4 linked regions of the Homo sapiens genome follow. The protein of the gene in region 1 purifies or fractionates together with the protein of each later gene. This does not show direct contact. Each region holds a gene or a part of one and is shown in the gene's direction. Other genes may lie near its edges. The genes, in order: LIG3, APTX, PREPL and RSAD1.

The links.
Region 2: the proteins of LIG3 (region 1) and APTX purify together in Homo sapiens (affinity purification with mass spectrometry; 3 studies listed by BioGRID and IntAct, with this or other methods). This does not show direct contact.
Region 3: the proteins of LIG3 (region 1) and PREPL purify together in Homo sapiens (affinity purification with mass spectrometry; 2 studies listed by BioGRID and IntAct, with this or other methods). This does not show direct contact.
Region 4: the proteins of LIG3 (region 1) and RSAD1 purify together in Homo sapiens (affinity purification with mass spectrometry; 2 studies listed by BioGRID and IntAct, with this or other methods). This does not show direct contact.

What each region holds. Positions count from the first base shown.
Region 1 is NC_000017.11:34,983,509-34,990,541, forward strand, and holds part of LIG3 (DNA ligase 3 isoform alpha precursor), read left to right. Parts: coding exon 1-44; intron 45-2,479; coding exon 2,480-2,623; intron 2,624-5,957; coding exon 5,958-6,155; intron 6,156-7,033. UniProt on the Homo sapiens protein: Isoform 3 functions as a heterodimer with DNA-repair protein XRCC1 in the nucleus and can correct defective DNA strand-break repair and sister chromatid exchange following treatment with ionizing radiation and alkylating agents.
Region 2 is NC_000009.12:32,984,612-32,991,644, reverse strand, and holds part of APTX (aprataxin), read left to right. Parts: intron 1-1,725; exon of another isoform or gene 1,726-1,749; 5' UTR 1,750-1,753; coding exon 1,754-1,886; intron 1,887-3,515; coding exon 3,516-3,562; intron 3,563-3,798; coding exon 3,799-4,101; intron 4,102-5,614; coding exon 5,615-5,674; intron 5,675-6,787; coding exon 6,788-7,014; intron 7,015-7,033. UniProt on the Homo sapiens protein: DNA-binding protein involved in single-strand DNA break repair, double-strand DNA break repair and base excision repair.
Region 3 is NC_000002.12:44,323,465-44,330,497, reverse strand, and holds part of PREPL (prolyl endopeptidase-like), read left to right. Parts: intron 1-1,385; coding exon 1,386-1,561; intron 1,562-3,569; coding exon 3,570-3,786; intron 3,787-7,033. UniProt on the Homo sapiens protein: Serine peptidase whose precise substrate specificity remains unclear. Does not cleave peptides after a arginine or lysine residue. Regulates trans-Golgi network morphology and sorting by regulating the membrane binding of the AP-1 complex.
Region 4 is NC_000017.11:50,481,848-50,486,495, forward strand, and holds the end of RSAD1 (radical S-adenosyl methionine domain-containing protein 1, mitochondrial precursor), read left to right. Parts: intron 1-243; coding exon 244-609; intron 610-795; coding exon 796-859; intron 860-1,492; coding exon 1,493-1,640; intron 1,641-1,858; coding exon 1,859-1,913; intron 1,914-2,594; coding exon 2,595-2,698; exon of another isoform or gene 2,699-2,795; intron 2,796-2,896; coding exon 2,897-3,014; 3' UTR 3,015-4,127; downstream 4,128-4,648.

The sequences.
Region 1 (7,033 bases):
GCTGGAAGATAATGAGAAGGAACAGATAACCCAGCACATTGCAGGTAAGGTAGAGAACACTGCTTTCTCATCTTACTGGTGCTGAGAGAAAAAGGGATAAGGAGTTCAACTGCTTTCTTTCTCTTTTTTTTAACTTTGCTCTTTTAGAGATGGGGTCTCACTCTGTTGCCTAGGCCAGTGTTTAATGTTGCATTCGTAGCTCACTGCAGCTTTGCACTGCTGGACTCAGGTCATCCTGACTCAGCCTCCCAAGTAGTTGGGATTACAGGCGCATGCCACCATGCCCAGCCTTTAACGTTTTATTTGGAAATAATTTTAAACTCACTGAAGTGTTGGAAGATTAAAAATAGTACAAAGAACATTCATATTCCTTTTACCCATATTTACCTATTAACATTTTACTCTATTTGCTTTATCATATTTGTTCATGTGCTGTCTCTCTCTACATACATACACACGTGTGCGTGCACTCACTTTAAACCATTTGAGAATAAGTTGCATACATCATGGCCCTTTAAAATTCTTCAGTGTATATACCTTAAGAATAGGATATATGACCCTTATGCGACTATAATATAGCTATCATCTTCAGAAAATTTGTCCTTGATGTAATACTTAAATCTACCATCTGTATACTATTTTGTCAATGGATTGAGTCATACCTTCAGTAGCCTTTTCCTGCAGTATAGGATCCCAGTCTAGGATCATATCAGGTGTTGCATTTAGTTGTCATGTTTCTTTGGCCTCCTTTAATCTGAAATATTTCCATAGTCTCTCTTTTATGACATTGATATTTTGGAAGAATAGAGTACTGATTACTATCCTCTTTTACTTTTTTTCTTGTAGCATATAATTCATTACTGTACTTAACTAATTTGATACTTAATTGTCCCATATTTGGCCAATTAGGAACCCCTTTACACTGTCCTCTGTGTCCTGTATACCTTCATTAACTTTTTTTAATGTACTTCTTTACTCTTGAGCATAGCAAGATGCTTTTAGTCTTATCCCGTATGTATCCTTCCCCAGCCCTGAAATTGGTAATTTCTCTGGGGATTCCTGTTAGTGGGAAATGCCCCTGTTAAAGAGTAAAACCTGGATACTATGTGTCCACATTGTCATGGGGTATCTGTTTCTTCTTTTTTTTTTTTTTGAGAGTCTCACTCTGACCCAGGCTGGAGTGTAGTGGCACTATCCTGTTAGTGGGAAATGGTATTAAAGAGTAAAACCCGGATACTATGTGAACACATTGTCATGGGGTATCTGTTTCTTCTTTTTTTTTTTTTTGAGACAGAGTCTCACTCTGTGACCCAGGCTGGAGTGCAGTGGCACTGTCTTAGCTCACTGCAACCTCTGCCTTCCAGGTTCAAGCAATTGTCCTGTCTCAGCCTCCCAAGTAGCTGGGACTACAGGCACTTGACACCACACCCAGCTAATTTTTGTGTTTTTAGTAGAGACAGGGTTTCACCATGTTGGTCCAGCTGGTGTTGAACCCCTGACTTCAAGTGATCCACCCACCTTGGCCTCCCAAAGTGCTGGGATTACAGGCCTGAGCGCCCAGCCATGGCATGTCTGTTTCTAAGCCCTTTCAGCAGACAGAGCTAGAAAATATGTGCGTGTATATGCATGTAAAATTCATACCTATATATGGCTATATATAACATGTTTGCATGTACATGCATATTTACATATGCATATTTTAGAAATTTTATGCCAATACCCCCAAATCCAGTTAGTCCTCTTTGACCTTCAGTGTCTGTAAAATAATGTTCATATCTTCAACTTAGTTCTGGTCACCATAGGAAGACAGTTAACAATGGCTCTAAAAATGGGTATCTGTCCTTGTTCTTTGAAAGGAAAAAAGACTTCCGGGAAAGAAAACTGTGCTTCCCATATACTTTATTCTCAGGCTCCCCATCCCACCTTGCACTGCCTTAGCTATTGGCCTCGGCCTTTGTTACTTCTTGACCCATCTCTCATTTGGAGGAAGAGAAATACAGGTAGAGTTCATGACTCAGATAACTAAGCATCTGGAAATTTTCCTTCCTATGCTAGGTTGACATGCTCTGTGATCCTCATTTACTTTTTGTTCATCTCTAAATTGAAGCTAATTCTGTGGGGTTGGGGGTTCCCTAAGTTTTATCCATCAAACTATGATTTCTGATTTCCCCCAAATTGTTATTTCTGGAGACTTACATATGGGATAAGAAGTGGAGAATGTTGATGAAAATTTAAGGTACTAATAGAGATAAATGGTAACTGGATCTTTTGTCTCCAGCATATCCTTCCCTTCTGTCCCCACAATACCCTATTACCTACTACCCCCACTCAAAAAATACCAGCCACCAGCCAGCCTTGGGCTAGTGCTAGGGTAGTGACTTAACAAGCAAGGCCCTAGGAGCAGTTGATAGATTCTTTGGATGTTTTTTTCAGAGATCGTTCACTGAAGGATATTTTATACTCTTTTGGGATCCTACAGATCTGTCTTCTAAGGCAGCAGGTACACCAAAGAAGAAAGCTGTTGTCCAGGCTAAGTTGACAACCACTGGCCAGGTGACTTCTCCAGTGAAAGGCGCCTCATTTGTCACCAGTACCAATCCCCGGAAATTTTCTGGCTTTTCAGGTAAGATAGGTTAGGGCTACTTTAGCTGTTATAGTGCTGCTTTTATTTTGTATTCTACCTAGGATTCTGGCTAAAGAGTGAAAATTCTGTGCTATCTCATCTCATTAATAATTTGCTTCTGTCTGAGCAGAGACTGGTAATGGCTAATTCTAAGCCTTCCGCTTGGTTTTTGTTTGTTTGTTTGTTTTTTGGTTTTGGGGGTTTTTTTGAGATGAAATCTTGCTCTGTCATCCAAGCTGGAGTGCAGTGGTGCATTCTCAGCTCACTGCAACCTCCGCCTCCTGGGTTCAAGCGATTCTCCCACCTCAGCCTCCCAAGTAGCTGGGATTACAGGCACCTGCCACCATGCCTGACTAATTTTTGTATTTTTAGTAGAGATGGGGTTTCGCCACGTTGGCCAGGCTGGTCTCAAACTCCTGACCTCAGGTGATCCACCTGCCCCAGCTTCCCAAAGTGCTGGGATTGCAGGCGTGAGCCACTGCGCTCGGCCAGCATTCCACTTGTATAGCATTTCTTTGTATACTTTAACCTCTATCGCAGCGGAAAGATTTGTTTTGTCAAGACTTTTTCCCCTTGAAATAGTTACCTGGGCCAGACAGAGATTATTAGAACCTGTCTTTTACTTCCTTGTGTTTTGATAATGAAAGAATTTTGAGAAATTGTTTCCCTGAATATGCCTAGAAATGAAAGTATGAAAGAAGGGAGATGTCATGCATGGATCTCCCTTCTTGATTCTTAAAACTGTTTATTCAAAACACTGGAACTTCATGGAACACAAAGGAAGGAAAAAAAGATCTGAAGGATATTGCTATTTGTTGGGAGGCAGTACAGCCTAGGGATGAAGCTTGCAGACTTTGGAATCAGTGAGCTCTGGGTTCAAATCCCATCTCCTAAAGGGGAGGACTGTGGCTATTATTTGTAGGACAGATGAACAATAAAGTGTTAAGTTTCCTGTTCTCTTCACTAAAATACACACATGCACACACGTGTATACACACATATATAGTTTCTTTTATATAAAATATAGAATTACTATTTCATAGACAGGGATTCAGGAAGACTTTGCTGGGGCATGTGGTATAGATAGGAGTTGAGAAGATCAGGATCATTTATTGGCCTTACGTAAACAGACAGCATTGGACTAGGGGCTTTTATATATGTAGTTTCATTTCTTCTTCAGTTAACCCTAGACAGTACTTTTATTTAGGAAGTACTTTTTATTAGGCCCTTTTTATGACTGAGAAAGTTGACGTTCAGGGTTATCATGGAGTTAGTATTTGTACTGAAGTCTGACTTCAGTACTTGTGCTCTTTTATACTACACTGTGTTGCTGCTTTTATTGTTTGGAGACATTCTTGTGATTGACTCAGCTGAAGAAAATAAATAAAGCCAAACCACTTGGCCTTATTTTAGAAGTCATTTGGAGATTGAAAGACATTTTATGTGATTGAAAGAAGCCTAGACCTGAGGTCAGAAGACTTGGGTTCTGGTCCTTGACAGCTCAGATCCCTGAGCACGTCCTTACCTCTCTTTAGCCTCTGTCTATGAAGCAGCAGTGGCCTCTCCTACCATAGTGCTATGCACAGGGTGCTATAGGAGCACAGGCAGCAATATATAGATTACTTTCCCCTCTGCTTCAGTGAGTTTGTGTATTTATTTGTTTAAGCTTCATCATATCTCCATGCCTCATCTACCCCATAGTGTTCTCATGAGGACTGTAAGAGATAACATTGCAAAAACGGTGCCTGGCTCTATAGGATTTTTATTATTTAAAAATTCTGGGCCGGGCGCGGTGGCTCACACTTGTAATCCCAGCACTTTGGGAGGCCGAGGCGGGCGGATCACGAGGTCAGGAGATCGAGACCATCCTGGCTAACACAGTGAAACCCTGTCTCTACTAAAAATAAAAAAATTAGCCGGGCGTGGTGGCAGGCACCTGTAGTCCCAGCTACTCAGGAGGCTGAGGCAGGAGAATGGCATGAACCCTGGGGGCAGAGCCTGCAGTGAGCCAAGATCGCGCCACTGCACTCCAGCCTGGGCGACAGCGAGACTCTGTCTCAAAAAAAAAAAAAAAAAAAAAAAAAATTCTGAGGTTGGTTGGTTTGTTGTTTGCTGGTAGGCCAAAGATAGAGAAGAGTCCAGGTGATGATAAGGACAGCATGTTTCTGGAAGGGCTCCGGTGTTGGGGATGGAATTTGGGAGGAGTTGAGAGAAAGAGAGTGTTTTAGTTCTTGCAACCTGGTTGAACATTGACACTTTGGAGATTTTGTCCCCTAAAATCATATTTAGATTCCGGATCAGAGATGAGGATGGATTTATAATTTACAAAGCCCAGACAAGAAACAGTGTACAACAGCAGTTAGCTTAGTAATGGCTCTGCCACAAGTTTGCCGAATAAAATTTGCTTTTTAAATGGTCACAAGGAGGTGAAAGGGAATCACCGATGAGTTGCACATAATTATTTTTAAGTGTCTGGAGGAAATCCCTGCCCCTTGACCACCTTTTGTAAAAATGTATTATTTTTTTTTTATAACTGCTCCTTGGGGAGCAGGGTTTTATTTTGACAATAAGAAAAGAAAAGTTGAAGCAGCGAGGGGTAGGGATGTTGAGTGTACTAATGGAATCTGACTTTCTTAGTAGTGTCTTTGTCCTGGCTCTTTCAACAAGGAAGTGGGCCAGGAAGTCATTTGCTCTTCTCAGACCTCAGTCCCCTTATCAGTAAGAGAACATTGAACTAGATAATCTTTAAGGCTTCTTCCAGCTCTGACAACCTGTGATAGCAGTAATTTCACATTGTCTAACACGTACTTGATTTCTTACCCCTTTCTCATGCCAGCTTTTCTGGGATCAGCTTTACAATTGCTCTGAGATCCTTCTGACCACTTTTTTTTTTTGAGGCAGGATCTTACTATGTTGCCCAGGCTGGTCTCGAACTCCTGGGCTCAAGCAGTCCTCCCGCGTTGGCCTCGCATAGTGTTAGGGTTACAGGCGTGAGCCACTGTGCCCAGCCAGTCCTGATCATTCTTGGCATGACTTTGGTCTTTATTCTTCAGTAAAGTGCTCACATAAAGAGATGCACATCAGTCTGGTCTTTTGCTTGGGTCTAAGGAGGCCATTGTTCCTTTAACATTATTTATTAGCTGTAAGATTTGGGAAAATTACTTGGCCTCCATTTCTTTATCTGTAAGATGGATATAATGACATCTACCCCAAAAGTCTATTCGGGGAGATTAAATAAAGCTAAATACCAGCAGAATATCTGTTAGTTTCCTTCCTTCCCTTTCTTTCTTCTCAGAAAGGCAGAATGAATTCATCTCTGTTGTTTCTCCAACAGCCAAGCCCAACAACTCTGGGGAAGCCCCCTCGAGCCCCACCCCTAAGAGAAGTCTGTCTTCAAGCAAATGTGACCCCAGGCATAAGGACTGTCTGCTACGGGAGTTTCGAAAGTTATGCGCCATGGTGGCCGATAATCCTAGCTACAACACGAAGACCCAGATCATCCAGGACTTCCTTCGGAAAGGCTCAGCAGGAGGTGTGGCATGAGCATCCTGAATAGGCCTTTCCTCCGGAGAGCTCAAGGCCATGGCTGCCTTCCTGGGCATGTGAGCTGTATAGTTGCCCGGGATCCCATGCTTGGTTTAATGCTGTACTGTAGTGCTATCTGGAAATTCTTAATAATTTTGAACAAGGGGCCTCGCATTTGCATTTTGCACTGTACTCCACAAATTATGTAGCCAGTTTTTCTCAGAGCACTTTGGCATCTGTCTTCCTCTCCCCTTATTCTGCTCCTAGGAGGCCAGAAGAACCCATCCTATTTGACTAGTTAGAAAATTTACTGTCCTACATATTTAATTAGGTTTTTGTGAACCATATACACAGTTTGGAATAGAATCTTCCAACTCTGTTTCTTTCATTTATCTAACAAATTGTCGATGAGCATCTCTGATGTCCTTGTCACTGGGCACGTGAAGTGAAACTAACCACTCTGTCCAACAAGAGTTCATCTGTAGGCTAAAGGTGAGGCAGACACAATCCACCAGCCTCTGAACTCCATGCTGTCTCCTACTATAGCGATATGCACAGGGTACTATAGGAGCATGGGCAGCGATATATAGATATCTTTTGGTCTCTGCTTCTTTGAGTTTGTTTGTTTGTTTATTTATTGAGACAAAAAATGTGGCTGTGTTGCCCAGGCTGGAGCGCATGGGTGCAATCTCAGCTCACTGCAACCTCCGCCTCCTGGGCTCAAGCAGTCCTTCTGCCTCAGCCTCCCAAGTAGCTGGGACTATAGGCATGTGCCGCTATGCCTGGCTAATTTTTGTATTTTTTGTAGAGACGGGGTTTTGCTGTTTTGCCCAGGTTGGTCTCAAACTCCTGGATTCAATTAATCTGCCTACCTCAACCTGCTAA
Region 2 (7,033 bases), on another chromosome or scaffold:
ACACCTGGCTAATTTTTGTATTTTTAGTAGAGATAGGGTTTTACCACGTTGGCTAGGCTGGTCACAAACTCCTGACCTCGTGATCCGCCTGCCTTGGGCTCCCAAAGTGCTGGGATTACAGGCCTGAGACACCGCACCTGGCCAGTGTGTCCTTTTATTCCTTTGTCATTCCCCAAATGTCATCAGTAATTAAGTATGTCTTCCAGATTTCTCCTGGCTCTTCTTGCTCTCCATCCCCTTTGCTTCGGCCATTGTTGAGGTCTCATCTCTCTTCTGAATTTCTTGTCTCTTTCTCTTTTACTGATAGTCCACATGGCCATAAGGGTTGTTTTTCAAAAGAATATCAGCACTTCCATTGTTTTGCGCGTTGCGTATTGCACAAAATTGTCACATTCACACTTTAGAAATTGTAGGTTTGCGGCCGGGCACGGTGGCTCATGCCTGTAATCCCAGCACTTTGGGAGGCCGAGGCAGGCGGATCACCTGAGGCCAGGAGGTCGAGACCAGACTGACCAACATGGAGAAACCTAGTCTCTACTAAAAATATAAAATTAGCTGACTGTGGTGACACATGCCCATAATCCCAGCTACTCGGGAGGCTGAGGCAGGAGAATCGCTTGAACCCAGGAGGCAGAGGTTGCAGTGAGCCAAGATTGTGCCATTGCACTCCAGCCTGGGCAACAAGAGTGAAGCTCCGTCTCAGAAAAAAAAAAAAGTAAAGAAATTGTAGATTTGCATATTTATTATGACTGTCTCCTGGCAGATGGGAGTGAAATATATTGTTCTAACATCAGTATGTCATGACAGGGAAGGAAAACCTATGACACATAAAGACACCTAAGCACTAGAGAACATCTTTTTTATGTCCTTAGTTCTCTGGCAGGCAAACTCCTTCTCATCCTTTAAAACCGCACATTAATATCCCTTCCTCGTGAAGCCTTTTAAAATATTCTCCACAAGAGTCAGTCAGTCCTTTTACTGGGCTAATGCCATATTTGGTTACTCTCTTCTTGTAGTGTTTATCACATTATATTGTATATATTGGTATATGATTCTGTCTGTCCTACTGCACTCCAGGCTCCTCAAGGACAGGGACAATGTCCCTGTTTTATTCATCCTTTGACTTTCAATATGTAGCCTAATGTCCAGCACATATCAATACATGTGTAACAGGCCAGGTGTGATGGCTTATGCTTGTAATCCCAGCACTTTGGGAGGCAGAGGCGGGTGGATCACCTGAGGTCAGAAGTTTGAGACCAGCCTGGCCAACATGGTGAAACCCTGTCTCCACTAAAAATACAAAAATTAGCCAGGTGTGGTGGCGGGTGCCTGTAATCCCAGCTACTCAGGAGGCTAAGGCAGGAGAATTGCTTGAACCCGGAAGGTGGAGGTTGCCGTGAGCCGAGATTGTGCCACTGCGTGCCAGCCTGGGGGACACAGCGAGACTCTGTCTCAAAATAAATAAAATAAATAAATAAATAAATGTGTAATAAATATTTGATTGCCTAGCATGATTCAGGCAGGGAGGTAAATACTTACTCACATTATCTCATTTAATTTTCACAACAGCCTCCTGAGTCCCATCATTATCATGGTTTATAGGTGAGGAAATTGAGACTAGGGTGGTGAAGTCACTTGCCTCAAGATGAACAGCTGGTAGATCACATGCGTGGTGGCACCGGGTGTGGCCCTGGAGGACTCGTGCTAGTGGATCTGTTTTTCTAGTGATTCTTTTGTTTTGTCCCTTAGAGTGATGATGCGGGTGTGCTGGTTGGTGAGACAGGACAGCCGGCACCAGCGAATCAGACTTCCACATTTGGAAGCAGTTGTGATTGGGCGTGGCCCAGAGACCAAGATCACTGATAAGAAATGTTCTCGACAGCAAGGTAACTGGTCATAGAAATGTGGAGATTACTATGGTTATGTGGGATAGTGATAACCAAAGATGCATATTTTCTGGGTGATCTTGATGGAAAATCTATTGTCTGCCAAAAATACAGCTCAGGAACTGAGCTCTTTTAGCCAACACCAGGGCCCTATTTATTCCTGATTCTGCCCTCCCAATGTGATAATGTTCAAGGCAGGGTGGGTGAAGGTTGGGAGCAGTCAAGTTCATACTGTTACCATGGGATGGTGGAATTGAGTCCTGCCCTCCTTTCCCCAGGGACATTGCTCAATGGGCAGCAAGATGTAAACTCTGGAGTCTACAGGTGAAACCATGTCTTTCTGAGAAGTAATGGGGTAGTGCCGTCCTTTACATATTGCTTCACGCAAAGTATTATGAGACAGTGGCATCTAGCACTTGTCTTAGGGTTTAATAACATGAAAGTCCTTGCCCTCAGAAAAAAATCCTTACCATGTACCTTGTTTTTTCCTGTAAACATGCACACTGCTGGCTGGAGTGTGACCCCCCCACAGCAAGGTTTCCCAAGGGTTCTGAACTTAGAGAGTTGGCATCTGCAGCACTGATTATGATCTTTCCTATATGAGTTAATCTAAGTGGAGGGATACAAAGCCATGCTTGAGCTGAGTAGGCCCAAGATGCAGAAGCAGTGGCTGCTTCTCTCTCTGTTCCCTTCCTCACAACAGCAACTGAAGGGGCATGTATGTGGCACCCTGTCCTCTCTGGGGAGCAGCTATGGTGGTTCTTCTTTCCTCCCTGTCTCAACTCCAGATACCTTGTTCATTTATCAGAACAGGAATGCTTAATGTTACCACTTCTCACACATGCTCAGATTGTTCTGTCTCTGCAATCATCTTTCTAGAACATTCTTTCCACTCCTTCTACCCAAAGCCACCTGAGTTTCTGTTTTCCAGGAATGTGTCTTTTACTGTTTTATCTTTTAAAGCATCTAATAGTTGTTGTTTTTCCAAAATAATAGTGGAAGCCTGATTTAATCCTTGGTCAAGAGTTCGTGTGAGAAATGGATCTTTTTTTTTTTTTTTTTTTTTTTTTTTCCTCCTGAGATAGGGTCTCACTCTGTTGCCCAGGCTGGAGTGTAGTGGTGCGATCTTGACTCACTGCAACCTCCACCTCCTGGGGCTCAAGTGATTCTCCCACCTCAGTCTCCCAAGTAGCTGGGACTACAGGCATGTGCCACCACACCTGGCTAATTTTTGTATTTTTTTGTAGAGACGGGGTATTGCCATGCTGCCCAGGCTGGGAGAAACAGGTCTTCTTTTCTGGCGGCAGAGTCTGTGATCATGAGCAGGCCAGGGGTTCTGGAATAGGGAAACTTGTGGGGATTAATTGAAGCTGCCTCATAGGGATCTTGGCAATAGCTAAGGGAGTATGTACGCTGTTGGACATTTTATGGAAGGATTTAAACCTTTAGAAATTGGTAGGATTTGGAGCTCCAGCCACCTGCAATAACAGGTGATTGCTAATAGGCCTTTAAGGAAACACCACCTGTTCAGCTGCCGCCTGTAGTGAAGCTTGTTTTCTTTAGGGAAGATAGGAGCAAGTGCCTGGTTCTTTGTTGCATTTGTGTTTAACTTTTTCCAATCTCTTTCAGTACAGTTGAAAGCAGAGTGTAACAAGGGATATGTCAAGGTAAAGCAGGTAGGTGTATTTATAACTTGGAATTTTATACTCGATGATTTTCTTATGCTGTTGACTTTAGAGTGTCTGTGCCAGCCAGTGAAGGCTTCTCTGTCATGTATGGAAGTGATGGAGTAATATAGGTGAACATAAGGCAAGGTGCTTGGCATATAGTAAGTGGTTAACATAGCAGTGGCTATCTTACTGTAGGTGCTGTTGCTATTATTATAATTATTTTCTGATTGTTTATTCCATAGGTAGGAGTCAATCCCACCAGCATTGACTCAGTCGTAATTGGGAAGGACCAAGAGGTGAAGCTGCAGCCTGGCCAGGTTCTCCACATGGTGAATGAACTTTATCCATATATTGTAGAGTTTGAGGAAGAGGCAAAGAACCCTGGCCTGGAAACACACAGGAAGAGAAAGAGATCAGGCAACAGTGATTCTATAGAAAGGGATGCTGCTCAGGAAGCTGAGGCTGGGACAGGGCTGGAACCTGGGAGCAACTCTGGCCAATGCTCTGTGCCCCTAAAGAAGGGAAAAGATGCACCTATCAAAAAGGTGAGGGTAGTGTGATTGGTAGATGATGTGGAGAAGAAATGAAATATAATGACTGCTTAATTGTTTTGTACACTTTAAAGTTCAGAAATGCGTGAGGGGTTATTAACCATGATGAAAGAGTCACTTGTTTGTGGCGTGAAAATCATTTGGATGAATGTTCCTTTATGTGCTTTTTTCTTAAATTCCTGAGGTAAGCCACCTGAAGGTACAACAATAATGGCAGTGTGTACTTAACATTGAACAACTAAAGTGGATCAGTTGTTTATGCATCTATAGAAGGTTTTCATAGATCATGTAATTCATATGCTGATGTCAAAGTGGAGAATTGGTCAGGCTGTAGCTGCAGTGAGAGAGGGCAAAGAAGGTATGACTCATACTCTGGCATTTCTCGCCTTCATTTAGAACAGCCAGCTGTGAATATAGGAAGGCTGGCTGGGTGCAGTGGTTCACGCCTGTAATCTCAGCGCTTTGGGAGGCCGAGGTGGGCAGATCACTTGAGGGTCAGGAGTTTGAGACCTGCCTGGCAAACATTGTGAAACTCCATGTCTACTAAAAATACAAAAATTAGCTGGGCCTGGTGGTACACACATGCTTGTAATCCCAGCTACTCGGGAGGCTGAGGCGGGAGGATTGCTTGAACCTGGAAGGCGGAGGTTGCAGTGAGCTGAGATTGCACCACTGCACTCCAGCCTGGGCGACAGAGCGAGACTCCATCTCAAAAAACAACAACAATAATAAAAAACAGCTGGGTGTGCTGGCTCACGCCTGTAATCCCAGCACTTTGGGAGGCCGAGATGGGCAGATCACCTGAGGTCAGGAGTTCGAGACCAGCCTGACCAACATGGCAAAACCTAATCTCTACTAAAAATACAAAATTAGCTGGGCGTGGTGGTGCATGCCTATAATCCCAGCAACTCCAGAGGCTGGGCAGGAGCATCGCTTGAACCCGGGAGGCAGAGGTTGCAGTGAGCCGAGATCACGCCATTGTACTCCAGCCTGGGCAACAAGAGCGAAACCCCATCTCAAAAAAAAAAAGAAAGAATATAGGGTCGGGTGTGGTGGCTCACGCCTGTAATCCCAGCACTTGGGGAGGTGGAGGCCAGTGGATCACCTGAGGTGAGGAGTTCAAGACCAGCATGGCCAACCTGGTGAAACTCCGTCTCTACTAAAAAATACAAAAGTTAGCTGGGCGTGGTGGTGGGCACCTGTAATCCCAGCTACTTGGGAGGCTGAGGCAGGAGAATCACTTCGGAGGTTGCAGTGATCACGCCGCTGCACTCCAGCTTGGGTGAGACAGAGTGAGACTTTGTCTCAAAAAAAAAGAGAATATAGGAAGGCAATGGAGTGAAGCAGAGTCAAGTGAATCTTGTTTAATTCTCAAAAACTAAGCTTATTTCCAAGTTTAGTTGTGCTATCACACAGTATTAACTGTTGCCAAATTTAATTATTGGCATTTGTAATTTACATTGCTTGTTTTTTTTTTTTTTTGTTTTTTTTTTTGTTTTTTTTTTAGGAATCCCTGGGCCACTGGAGTCAAGGCTTGAAGATTTCTATGCAGGACCCCAAAATGCAGGTCAGAATACAATTTTGGAATTTCAGTACATTTCATGTTGTAAATGACCACTCCACAGAGGTCTTAATTACAAATGAAATCAAAGGATATCAGTCTTTCTGAATGAGATTCATTTTATTGGGCTGTTCTGTGAGAACAAGAGGCTTTTCACATTGGCAATAAAGTAGCAGCTGTCATTGTTTGGAGAGAAAGCTGAGTTCTTCAAATGAATATCCCCTCTGCCTTGTGCCTTTTAAACTTCTGGGTACTTTAAGGGAAGTTGCATTAACCTTAGTATGGTTCCTTTCAGGGGAGCATCAGAGATAATACACTGTGACAGTAGTACTGTGCTGCCCTGGCATTAACAGTCAGACATCCCTGTAATCCCAGCACTTTGGGAGGCCGAGACGGGAGGATCACCTGAGGTCAGGAGTTCGAGATCAGCCTGACCAACATGGAGAAACCCTGTCTCTACTAAAAATACAAAAAATTAGCTGGGCATGGTGGTGCATGCCTGTAATCTCAGCTACTCGAGAGGCTGAGGCAGGAGAATCACTTGAATCCGGGAGGTGGAGGTTGCGGTGAGCTGAGATTGCACCATTGTACTCCAGCCTGGGCAACAAGAGCGAAACTCCATCTCAAAAAAAAAAAAAAAAAAAAAAAAACAGGCATCATCCTTGAGGAGCCTTTGAGTCCCACTTCAATTATATTCCTTGTTGACAAGGGGCAGGTCTAATAGGGCTCACTGGAACCCACGTGTACGTGTCACACAGTCTGCCATGTTGGAGTGGAGAAGGATGCTTTTGAATTTATGTCTACAGAGATTTTACATCACATTCTTGGGAACTATTTTGTACTGTGCATCTTCTGTGTATTCTGTGTAGTGTGGTGGTTGAAAACAGACTCTGGAGTCAACCACATCTGAGTTGGAATCCTAGATTTCCCTCTTAGGAACTATGACTTGTGCAAGACACTCAACCTGTCTGAATTTCAGTGCTCTCCTCTCTCAAAACTGGGCTATTAAAACCATTTGCACAAGACTGTGGGAATTAAGTGACTTAGTGAATATAACAACCAGGCACACAGAAGATTCTTAGTAGATGTCTGTTTCCTTCTCTTGTATCCCTCTGCTAGGTTTACAAAGATGAGCAGGTGGTGGTGATAAAGGATAAATACCCAAAGGCCCGTTACCATTGGCTGGTCTTACCGTGGACCTCCATTTCCAGTCTGAAGGCTGTGGCCAGGGAACACCTTGAACTCCTTAAGCATATGCACACTGTGGGGGAAAAGGTGATTGTAGATTTTGCTGGGTCCAGCAAACTCCGCTTCCGATTGGGCTACCACGCCATTCCGAGTATGAGGTAAGCCAGGTGGGTAGTG
Region 3 (7,033 bases), on another chromosome or scaffold:
TGTTACCCACTTAGTGTATTATCTTTTAGATAGGTTTTATTTGGTTTTACAAACATGGAATTAGACTAGTCTATCAAAATGTTGCAATTATTGGACCCGAGATGGAAAGAACAGTTAAGCACCATGTTCTTGGAGAGCCAAGAGGGGAGAAGGGAAGCAGCTGCTGAATGGAAGCGCTATACCTTTCCACAGGCATTTTAGTACTGCTGGCAAACCCAGATCCAGCCCATCACAGGAGTAGCTACTGTTTTACCTCTTCCTTTCAAAACTTTTCAACAAGCAACTTTTTCTGATTGTATAATTGAAGTTGGGGAAGAGTTGGGAAGTGAAAAGACCAAGAGTGTTTTATAGAAATTAATCTACATCAAGTTTTATAAAAGTGAATCTTACTAAAAGTGAAAGTTAACAATGTCATAACAACTTGGGTATTTTAAAGAAGAATGAGAGGAGAATTTCCTCCTTATTTGATTACATTTTGCTGTCTCCAGTTATTGCCCCAAAGTGAAGTTTTCAAAATGAGAATGAAAATATGAAGAGTGACTTGGATGTATTATTTATTTTCTTTATGTAAACGGTGCTATTTCATTAGTTTAAGCAGGGTGAAAACCAATTTCTTTATCTTTTTTGTGTGAAAGGTAGATCAGAATTAGTTCTTTTGTCTGTTCAGAGACTGCCTAGTTTCAATCAACTGGAACTGATGAGTTTGAGCTACATTGGGGGATGGTTACATAACCTACAAGTAACTTAGTAACCTTACAAATAATTTAACTTACTTTAACCCTACAAAGAATTTTACCGAAAAATTTTAAGACCACTTTAAATTTTTTTTAATAAAGTTAAATGGGCCTTTGAAGAGGATTGTGGTAGTTATCAGTAACATCAGTAAGATTTCAGGTCTTAATGGTTGAGAATTCCGACTACAGAGGATATAGAAAATTGAGCTGGTAAGACTTTAGTCAGCATATTTGTAGATACTCAAAAGTGAAAAATGCCAATATCTAGCTCTTAGGCATAGGAAGAGTGCTATACTAGGACTTCTAACCTTGGTAAGTATTTTGGTTTCATCTGAAAATTTAAAATTATAGTAGGTAGTGAAGAACTCTTTAAAATTACATTATTGTCATGAAAAGCTGCATTTAATAAAATGTTTTCAGGCCAGTCTTGCTGCTCTTTTCTGGTTAATACTGTAGGACAGCAAGGTAGCTGAAACCAAAAGCCATGATTTATTTTTAGAGACCATAATTCTTTTTCTTAAACAAATTTGTGCTCAACATCAGTAGGTAGCACACAAGTGGGGACAGTGCACCTCAATGTATTTTAAATTGGGATAAAACAGTTATTATAAAAGACTCTTCTTTACATACATAGTAATTCTTCATTTCTAGGATGGAAAATTAGTGCCAATGACTGTTTTCCACAAAACTGACTCTGAGGACTTGCAGAAGAAACCTCTCTTGGTACATGTATATGGAGCTTATGGAATGGATTTGAAAATGAATTTCAGGCCTGAGAGGCGGGTCCTGGTGGATGATGGATGGATATTAGCATACTGCCATGTTCGGTGAGTCAGTATATTTTACCTGGCATGTAAGTGCTAGACCATTGTGAGAGATGTCAAGAATAACAATATATATCAGGGAACAAAAGCTTATTTTTTTCATTCTTATTATTCAATTTTTGTATTCCTAAACCAGCACTGGTGAAACTTGATTCTTTAACAGATTAGTTGATCCAAAAAGCAAAAGGATAGGTTTTTAGGATTTTTGCATAGAGGTACCAGACTCTGTACTTATTTAGTAATATTATTATTTCCTTTCAGTTCTCCTGAATTCAGGTTTAAGTAGCCTCTGAATCTGAACTGTTTTCCATTTAACTTCCATTTTATTTCAGCTGTTTTCAAGACACAAATATTATTTTGTATTTCTGCTTAAAATTCTTCTCCACCTCCCCATCTCTAGAACACAGTCCAGATTCCCCAGTATAATACTCCTAATGGTCTGATGGATCTCTGTAGCGGCATTTAGCATCAGACCCTTTTTTTTTTTTTTTTTTTTTTTTTGTTTGAGACAGTTTTGCTTTGTCGCCCAGGCTGGAGTGCAGTGGCACAATCTCGGCTCACTGCAACCTCTGCCTCCCAGGTTCAAGTGATTCTCATGCTTCAGGCTCCTGAGTAGCTGGGACTACAGGCGCACACCACCACACTGTCTGAATTTTTTTTTTTTTTTTTTTGAGATAGAATCTTGCTCTGTCGCCCAGGCTGGAGTGTGCAGTGGCATGATCTTGGCCAGGGTTCAAGCGATTCTCCTGCCTCAGCCTCCTGAGTAGCTGGGATTACAGGTGCCTGCCATAACTCCTGACTAATTTTTGAAATTTTTGTAGCGATGGGGTTTCACCATGTTGGCCAGGCTGGTCTCGAACTCCTGACCTCAAGTGATCCGCCCGCCTCAGCCTCCCAAAGTGCTGGGATTACAGGCATGAGCCACCGTACCAGCCCGATTTTTTTGTATTTTAGTAGAGACAGGGTTTTCCAATGTTGCCCAGGCTGGTCTCGAACTCCTGAGCTCAAGCAGTCCGCCCGCCTCAGCCTTCCAAAATCATGTCCTTTTATTTTTTTTATTTTGTTTTGTATTTTTTTGAGATGGAGTCTCACTCTGTCTCCCAGGCTAGAGTGCAGTGGCGCAATCTCCGCTCACTGCAACCTCCGCCTCCCAGGTTCAAGTAATTCTCTTGCCTCAGCCTCCCGAGTAGTTGGGCTTATAGGCACGCACCACCACACCTGGCTAATTTTTTCTATTTTTAGGAGAGACGGGGGTTTCACCATGTTGGCCAGTCTGGTCTCAAACTCCTGACCTCAAGTGACCTGCTCACCTCAGCCTACCAAAATGCTGAGATGACAGGCTTGAGGCACTGTGTCCAGCCCCCAAAGTCATGTCTTTTAAATGACATGCTCTGTCACCTCCTTGCCCTTATACATGCTGTGTCGTATCTGTGTCTTAATGCCTTTTCTTTGCCCTCTGGAAACTCAAATTTTTCCTTCACAACTCAGTTTAGGCATCATCTCCTTAAAAGCATTTGTGTTCCTGACTCGTGTATATACCCCTCACCTGGCAGATGGATGTTCTTTCCTCTGCTCCTGTAATACCTTAAATACACTTGTATTGTAGCAATGACACCACATTGCTGGGTAAGTCGTTGTTTTCTTACCCCACAAAATTACTGTCTTCTCCACGGTAGGGGATTTTCGTTTGTTTCTACTTTTAAGGTCTGTACTTAATCCCTGATAAATGGGCAGGCACTCAAAATATATTCGTTGAATCAATTCTGGATTGTCTATATCAGGAGTTGGCAAACCTTTTTCTCTAAAGAGCTACATAGTCACATTTTAAGCTTTGCAGGCCGCGTACAGTTTCTGTTGCACATTCCTTGTTTTCACTCAACCTTTAAAAAGCAAAAACCAGTCTTAGCTCCAGGGCCACACAAAAAACAGGCCTCCAGGTGTAGTTCGCTGACCCCAGCCTACAGTATTAACTTTTTTTTTCCACTAAAACTTTTTTGCCCTTCAATTTCAGAGGTGGTGGTGAGTTAGGCCTCCAGTGGCACGCTGATGGCCGCCTAACTAAAAAACTCAATGGCCTTGCTGATTTAGAGGCTTGCATTAAGACGCTTCATGGCCAAGGCTTTTCTCAGCCAAGTCTAACAACCCTGACTGCTTTCAGTGCTGGAGGGGTGCTTGCAGGAGCATTGTGTAATTCTAATCCAGAGCTGGTGAGAGCGGTGACTTTGGAGGTGAGTACGCTCTGTCTCTACTGTTTATAGAATGGGGGAGGTGTGAAGCCATAGGCTACTCTAAGAAAAATGTTTTTGGGCTGGCACAGCGGCTCATGCCTGTAATCCCAGCACTTCGGGAAACTGAGGTGGGCAGATTGCTTACCAGGAGCTCGAGACCAGCCTGGGCAACATGGCGAGACCCTGTCTCTGCAAGAAATTAAAAAAAAAAAAAAACCTACCCAGGCTTGTTGGTAAGAGGATCTCTTAAGAGGTTGAGGCTGCAGTGGACCACTGTGCTCCAGCCTGGGCAACAGAGTGAGACATTGTCAAAAAAAAAAAAAAAAAAGGAAAGAAAAACATTTCTGTTACAGTTTTACCATAGCATAGGAGTATAACAAAGCTTTTAAGTTTTAAACTCAGAATTATAGCTTGAGGAGAACTTCTAAAGTTATTTTAATCCAACTATTAACCGTTATTCTTCTCTGATACAGTGTTCTTTATTATCTTTAAGGCTTTCCACTGAAAGATATTAATGGCTATTTCCATTGCTCATTTGTATTTGTAAGGACATTTAGAATTGGTGAAAAAGCACTGAAGCATATATGAGTCCCAGTTGAGAAAGCCAGGCAAAGCACGCTGTGACTCTGGAATGCACTGAGTCCTTTGGCTCCTGGTCACCTTGACAGGCTACTGCCCATCAACATTTCAGTCCTAGATTTATAGGCTCTTTATTTTTAGATAGTCCATTCTTAATGGTCGTTTGGGCATAGTTTTTCCGTATTTTAATTGAAATATCTTACCCTGTTCTGAAAATGATTATCTTTTCCCAGTGTCAGAAATTACGAAGTTACATTGTAGCAGTTGGTTTCACTGCTATCATTCTCCTACTTCTAGGTTACTCTGAAAAATAATGACTGAGATGGGAGAGAGTAAATTATTTTCAGGATTTTTTATTTTGAGGTTGGGGAGTTTATACTGTGGGCTTGTAAATAAGTGTTAAATAGTAGTCACCTGTAAGTCTATTTTTTAAAAACAGAAAAATGTGGAGAATAGCCTATGCACAAAGATAATGGCAGAATTATTTACAGTTTAAAGACAAAGCAACTAGATTTTGACTTTTAGAAATTTAAAAGGAAATGATGAGAAGGATATTTATGCTAGGTTGCTTATTATAGTGAAGACTAGGAGACAACCTTTTATACATGTATAAGTCAAATTCTTCTTATAAGCACCAAAAATCAACCCTAATTTAAGCAGAAAAGGGATTAAAGGGCATTAGGAAAATGTAGGTGTCTTCAGACCAGTGTTAGAGGCTTCAGAGCCAAAGGCATAGAATTGGCCCAATGAAACTATTACTGCCGCCACTGCCAAGCACAAATCACCTCACACTGCCAGTGCAACTTCTAGAGCTGGATATAGCTGTGGCACTTTTGCCAGAATAAATTATCTGTGATCACTGCTTCTTTGAATCACTAACTTTCCATGCAGAGTGTAAAGCACATGTGTCTGGTTGATAGACCCAAGTCACACATGGGTCACACAGCTACTCCCAAGCTGCAGGGAAAAATGGGAAAGAGAAGTCTAGCACTTAGTATCTCCACAGTGAGAGGCAGGCTCTAGCTGATAAGGTTGGAGGTTTTTCAAATGCAAAAAAGTTCATATGGTAGGCAGCCAAAAAGAATTACAGATGACTCACTATACTTGGTTAATGTTAATATGAGGGAAAGCTAAAAAGTATGTTAACAGAAGAAAATAAAGCTAAGTGAAAAATACAGCCTTCATTTTTGTTTTGTTGTTTTTGTGGGGTTTTTGTTTTTTTGTTTTGTTTTGTTTTGTTTTTTGAGTCAGAGTTTTGCTCTTTCACCCAGGCTGGAATGCAATGGCACACGAACACAGCTCACTACAGCCTCGACCTCTGGGGCTCAGGTGATCCTCCCACCTCAGCCTCCTGAGTATCTGGGACTACAGGCATGTGCCACCATGCCCTGCTAATTTTTGTGGTTTGTTGTTGTTTTGTAGAGATGTGGTTTTACCATGCTACCCAGGCTAGTTTCAAACTCCTGGGCTCAAGTGATTTGCCCACCTCAGCCTCCCAATGTGCTGGGATTACAGGCATGAGCCACCATGTGCGACCCAGCCTTCGTTTTATTAAATTTTGTAACACTAATTATAAGCCAATGGGTTGTTTTCTCTTCTTTCACCTTGGGTATTTTGCAGAGTTTCTTTACTTAGCGTTTTTTGCTTTTAATATAAAATGTCCAACTGGTCAAAAAGACTTTATTCCTTGTGTATTTTTTTCATTTAAAAATTTTTAATTATGGTAAAATACCATAAAATTTACCATCTCAACCATTTTTAAGTGAATAGTTCAGTAGTGGTAAGTGCACTCATAGGCTTATGCAGTCAATCTCCAGAACTCGTTTTTCATCTTAACAAAACTGAAACCCTGTACCGATTAAACAGCTCTCCATTTGCTTCTTCCCACAGCCTCTGTCTCTGTGAATTTGACTACTCAAACACCTCACATAGGTGGAGTCATACAAAATTTTTTGTGACTGGCTTATTTCACTTAGATTATATCCTTGAGGTTCATCCATATTGTAGCGTGGATCAGAATTTTATTCATTTTTAAGGCTGAATAATATTCCATGTAATATTGCATGTGTATACCACATTTTGCTTATTCGTTCTTTGGTTAATGGACACTTGAGTTGCTTCCACCTTTTGGCTGTTGTGAATATGCTGCTGTGAACATAGGTATGCAGATCTCTTTAAGACCCTGCTTTCAGTTTTGGGGATTATATGCCAGGAGTGGAATTGCTGGATCATATGGTAATCTTAAGCTTAACTCTTTGATGAACCACCATACTGTTTTCCAAAGCAGCTCCCCCATTTTACATTCCAACCACCAGTGTATCAGGATTCCGGTTTCTCCACATTACTGCCAATACTTGTTGTTGTTGTTGTTGTTTTAATATAATAACTAACTGTCCTAATTGGTATGAGACAGTAGCATTTATTGCTTTTATATAAGAAAAAATATAAATGAATAAAAGGTACTAAGCTAAAAATAAATATTGTGAAATTAGAAGATAAACCATTTCTTGTTATATGTCATTTAAGGAATCTGAAGACTTTAAAAGTAGGTTATAAATTACAGGCCCTGGTTAAGGACTGAGTATTCTAGCTCCTAGGAATCTACATGGCTTGAGTTATTTTCTCTCATATTAGTATGTATATTCATAAAATAGAATGTTTTTCTGAA
Region 4 (4,648 bases), about 15 Mb from region 1:
TCTGTAAAATAGAACTAATATTGGAGGGTTACAAAGATTAAATTAGACACTACATAAAGGTGCTTGGCACATAGCGACCCTTCTGTGAATGGCAGCTCTTGGTGCCAGCTTGACCTTCCCCCTCCTGCCTTCCAGCTGCCTGCCACGTGCTGCGTTCTCCCTGTATCTGTGTCTACAATGGGGAGGAGGGTTCTTGTCTCTCTCTGAGCTGCTGGTATGCTTACACCCACCCTCTTTTCCCAGTCCCTAGATGACACTGAGCTCCGGCTGTTGGGACGGACGCACTCGGCCTGCGATGCTCTGCGGACGCTGGCAGAGGCCCGGCGCCTCTTTCCCGGGCGCGTGTCTGTAGACTTGATGCTGGGGCTGCCGGCACAGCAGGTGGGGCCGTGGCTTGGGCAGCTGCAGGAACTGCTGCACCACTGTGATGACCACCTCTCCCTCTACCAGCTGTCCCTGGAGCGGGGCACCGCACTCTTCGCCCAGGTGCAGCGGGGTGCCCTTCCAGCCCCTGACCCGGAGCTCGCAGCTGAGATGTACCAGAGGGGCCGGGCTGTCCTTCGGGAGGCTGGCTTCCACCAGTATGAGGTCTCCAACTTTGCCCGGAATGTAAGTTCTGGGGCTGATGGCTGGAGGTGGAGGATGGGCAGACTGCAGTGTGACCAGGGCGTTGTGACCTTCTGAAGAGAAGGATCCTGGCCGAGATGGTGGGACATTCTAACCTGGGGCCCCTTACCTGAGTCTAAAAATGAGGCCTGCCCTCTTCACTCTGCACTATTTCCTCCCTCCCCGCAGGGGGCGCTCAGTACCCACAATTGGACTTACTGGCAGTGTGGTCAGTACCTTGGCGTTGGGCCTGGTGAGTCCCGTGAACTACAGAAAGGGTGACTCAGGAGAGGAATGTCGTGGCTGTGTGAACTTGGGCCACATTAACCTCTCCAAGCCTCTATTTTCTCATATGTAAAATGTGGCAAAAAATAATACCTCCCTATAGAACTGTTGAGCATGAATTATAAGGGGCTTAATGTTGCACCTTGCACTAGGGTTCTCAGCCTTTAGTGTGTATGAGAATCTCCTGGAGGGCTTGTTAAAACCCAAGCTGCTGGGCCCCACCCTCAGAATTCCCAATTGGACAGGGCTAGAGGAGAGCCCAAGAATTTATATGTCTTGGCATTTTGGGATAGATGATTAAAAAAAAAAGAAAAAGAAAAAAGGGCCTGGTGTCATGTGCCTCTAATCTGAGCTACTTGGGAAGCTGAGGTGGAAAGATCGTTTGACCCCAGGCGTCCAAGACCAGCCTGGGCAGTATAGTGAGACACCACCTCAAAAAAAAAAAAAAAAAAAAGAAAGAAAGAAAGAAAGAAAAGAAAAGAAAAATAATTTATATTTCCAGTATGTTAGAGGCAGTTGCTCCAGGGACCACATGATTTAAATCTGGTAAACACATAGTATTAACAGCCATTAATGTGGGGATGGTTGTTGATGTTGTCAGGGGCCCATGGACGATTTATGCCCCAGGGGGCTGGAGGCCACACCCGGGAGGCTCGGATCCAGACACTGGAGCCTGACAACTGGATGAAGGAGGTGATGCTGTTTGGCCATGGCACCCGGAAGCGTGTCCCCCTGGGCAGGCTGGAGCTGTGAGCATCCAAGGGCACAGGGCTCTCCTCCAGGATCCCCACACCCCAAGACCATGTCTATTTGTATATCTTTTATTTCCTGTCTTGTCCTGGCCCCTGCCTTGCCACATACTGTATGGTCCCTGTTAGCCTCCTCTAAATGCATCCCAGTGTAGAATTTGGAGAATGGGAGGAGCACAGGCCTCCTCTCTAAGACTCCTTGGTGATTTTTCTTTGAGGCTGGAGGAAGTTTTGGCCCTGGGGCTACGCACCGATGTGGGGATCACTCACCAGGTAAGGAGTTAGGATTCTTGCACACCACTCCCTCCTAAAGTCTTGCAGAATCAATGCCCCCTCCCTGCCACCCCCCCCACACACATATACCTCCAATTTCTGTGAGATTGGCAGCTAGAAGTGGGGCCCAGGTCCAGCTGAGGCCTGATGGGCAGAAGCAGTGAGCAGTGGTGCATAGCTAAGAACCCTAGACCAGGGCTGCAGAGACCCAAGTTCCAGCCCTCATTTTACTGCAACCTTGGACACAAATCCTTTCACCTCTCTTAACCTCAATTTTCTGAGCTCTGTGAAGCAATAGATAGATAAAGGGTTTCCACTTGTTTTTAGGGAGCACTGAAACCTCTCATAGGAAGCACAGTAGATAATTATCAAGCAAATCCAGAGCTGCTCTGGATAAAGCAGAGCCATAAAGCCCTGGCTAGAGCTGGCTGAGAGGGGAGGGAAGAGAGGAGGCATAGAGGAAGGCCTGGCTTGGCTGGAAGCTGGGTTCCAGTCTCAGTGGAATAGGAGTGAAGCTGCCCTCCTCCCTGCTGGCCCATTGGCCTGGTTCTGCTTTCATGCATGTCAGCTGCTGAGATCTCCATGCTGAACTGGACCCTCCCCCACCTCTCACCATACCCCAACTATGTGGCCCAGAGTAGCCAGGCCAGCTCCCCACCTCTGACCCTCTGGCTTCCCCAGCACTGGCAGCAGTTTGAGCCCCAGCTGACCCTGTGGGATGTGTTTGGAGCGAACAAGGAGGTGCAGGAGCTGCTGGAGCGGGGCCTACTGCAGCTGGATCACAGGTGTGTTGGGGGGTGCCGGGCAGAGGGGGCTGAGGCATACCAGGGAGCCCTGACTACAGCTCTCCACAGACCCAGGAGAAGTGAGAAAGACTGACTGGTAAGGCGGGACCTGCGGGTGCTGGGAGCTCGGCCCTGCTGGGTGATGGGCTTGAAATTGGTAAGATGAAGTAGTCACCTTCAGGCCTCTTGGTTTTCCAGGGGTCTTCGGTGTTCCTGGGAGGGTCTGGCTGTGCTGGACTCTCTCTTGCTGACCCTCCTGCCTCAGCTCCAAGAAGCCTGGCAGCAGAGAACCCCCTCCCCTGTGCCAGGAGGATGACAAAAATGTTCCTGTGTTCCAGGGTAATGCCAGGTGGGTTTTGAGAGCTGGGTCGGTACTGCAGACATCTCTTCTCCGTTGTCGGGTGCCGTCTCTGCTCCTTGTGGTTATTGCTCAGCCCTGGCATCCCCAGGGGAATGGCAGCAGTGAGGTAGATGGGAGGACATTTCTGGTCAGGGAACTGGCATCCCATTCAGCATCTCAGGACTCACAGGCCAACATGTGTTCCATGGCTGGGAATTGCCTACCACCCACATCAGCTTCTGTTTACCTTTTTGGCATCAAATAATGAACAGTGTTTGGAAATCTTTCTACAGGCAATTACCTCCCCAAGAGAAGCCTTCCTTATTTTGGAGTAAGGTCCTAAGATAGCTGGATGAATCAGGAAAACCATGTCCCCTCTAGGTATTATTAATATAAGCAGGAAGGGATCTACTATAGGAATGAAGTATTTATAAACCACTGAAAGGGATAGAGAAGTGAACATTGGAGAAAGCCAGTAGCAACTGTGAGAAATCAGCAACTTGCAGGAGGCACAGAAAACTCCTGCTGATGGTCTCAGCTTCCAGCAGCACAAAAGCAGATGATGTACTGGAAAATGCTCAGAAGATGCTACAAAACCTCATGCCTACTGTCTGCCACTGCTGGAGAAGGAATCATGGTTTCTAGAAGTGCCTCTCATTAGTGGACTTTAAAGCAAATCCTGGCTGGCAGGAAATTCTGAGGAATATAGCTCTTAGGCTTCCAGCCTCTACCATGCAGGAGAGAACACAGAAGGACTGATGTATGTTGGTGGATCCATGTATGTGTCCAGCACAGCGGCCTGCTGGACTCTGAGAACTGGGAAAGATCAGAGCAAGCCTTGCCTCTTATCTTCGGGAAACCAGAATATGTTTGGGGTGGTAGGAGCCACACAGACTCTTCTGAGCCCCCTCACTCACTTCCTTCCCCCTGTGCCTTTCCTTTGAGAGTGAAGGTGGGTGGAGTTGACCAGAGAAAGGGGAGAGAATTCGGGAAAGACCCAAAGTGTTTGTAATTCTTCTTTGTCCTTTTACCTACAGAAATGGTCACATGGTTCTATTTAAATAGCCTAATAAACACATCTGGAGCCTGTCTTGACTGTGGTCCTCTCCTTTGAGCTCCTTCCTAGAGCGTGGAATCCTGATTTTGGGACTAGAACCTTAGCCTAGGGCTGAGATTCCTTCCCCCGCTCCCTACATTTTATTTTGAAGGATTTCAGACCTACAGAAAAGATAAAAGAATAGTTCATTGGAAGCCATATATCCTTTGTCTACTATGTAACTATAAAGTCTGGAAATAGGCAAATATTCATAATGCCATCAAGAACATCTTCAATCTATTGAAAAATATGATAGGCCAGATGGGGTGGTGCATGCCTATAATCCCAGCACTTGGGGAGGCCAAGACGGGAGAATCACTTGAGCCCAAGGGTTTGAGGCCAACCTGGGCAACATAGCAAGACTCTGCTTCCAAAAAAAAAAAAAAAAAAGTTTCCATACTTTGTGGTTACCCTATAGATTCATCAATTGTTAATTTTTGGCCACATTTACTTCATCTTTAGATAAATATGTCTGTATAATTTTTTTTCTGAATAATTTAAAAGTTGTAGACAT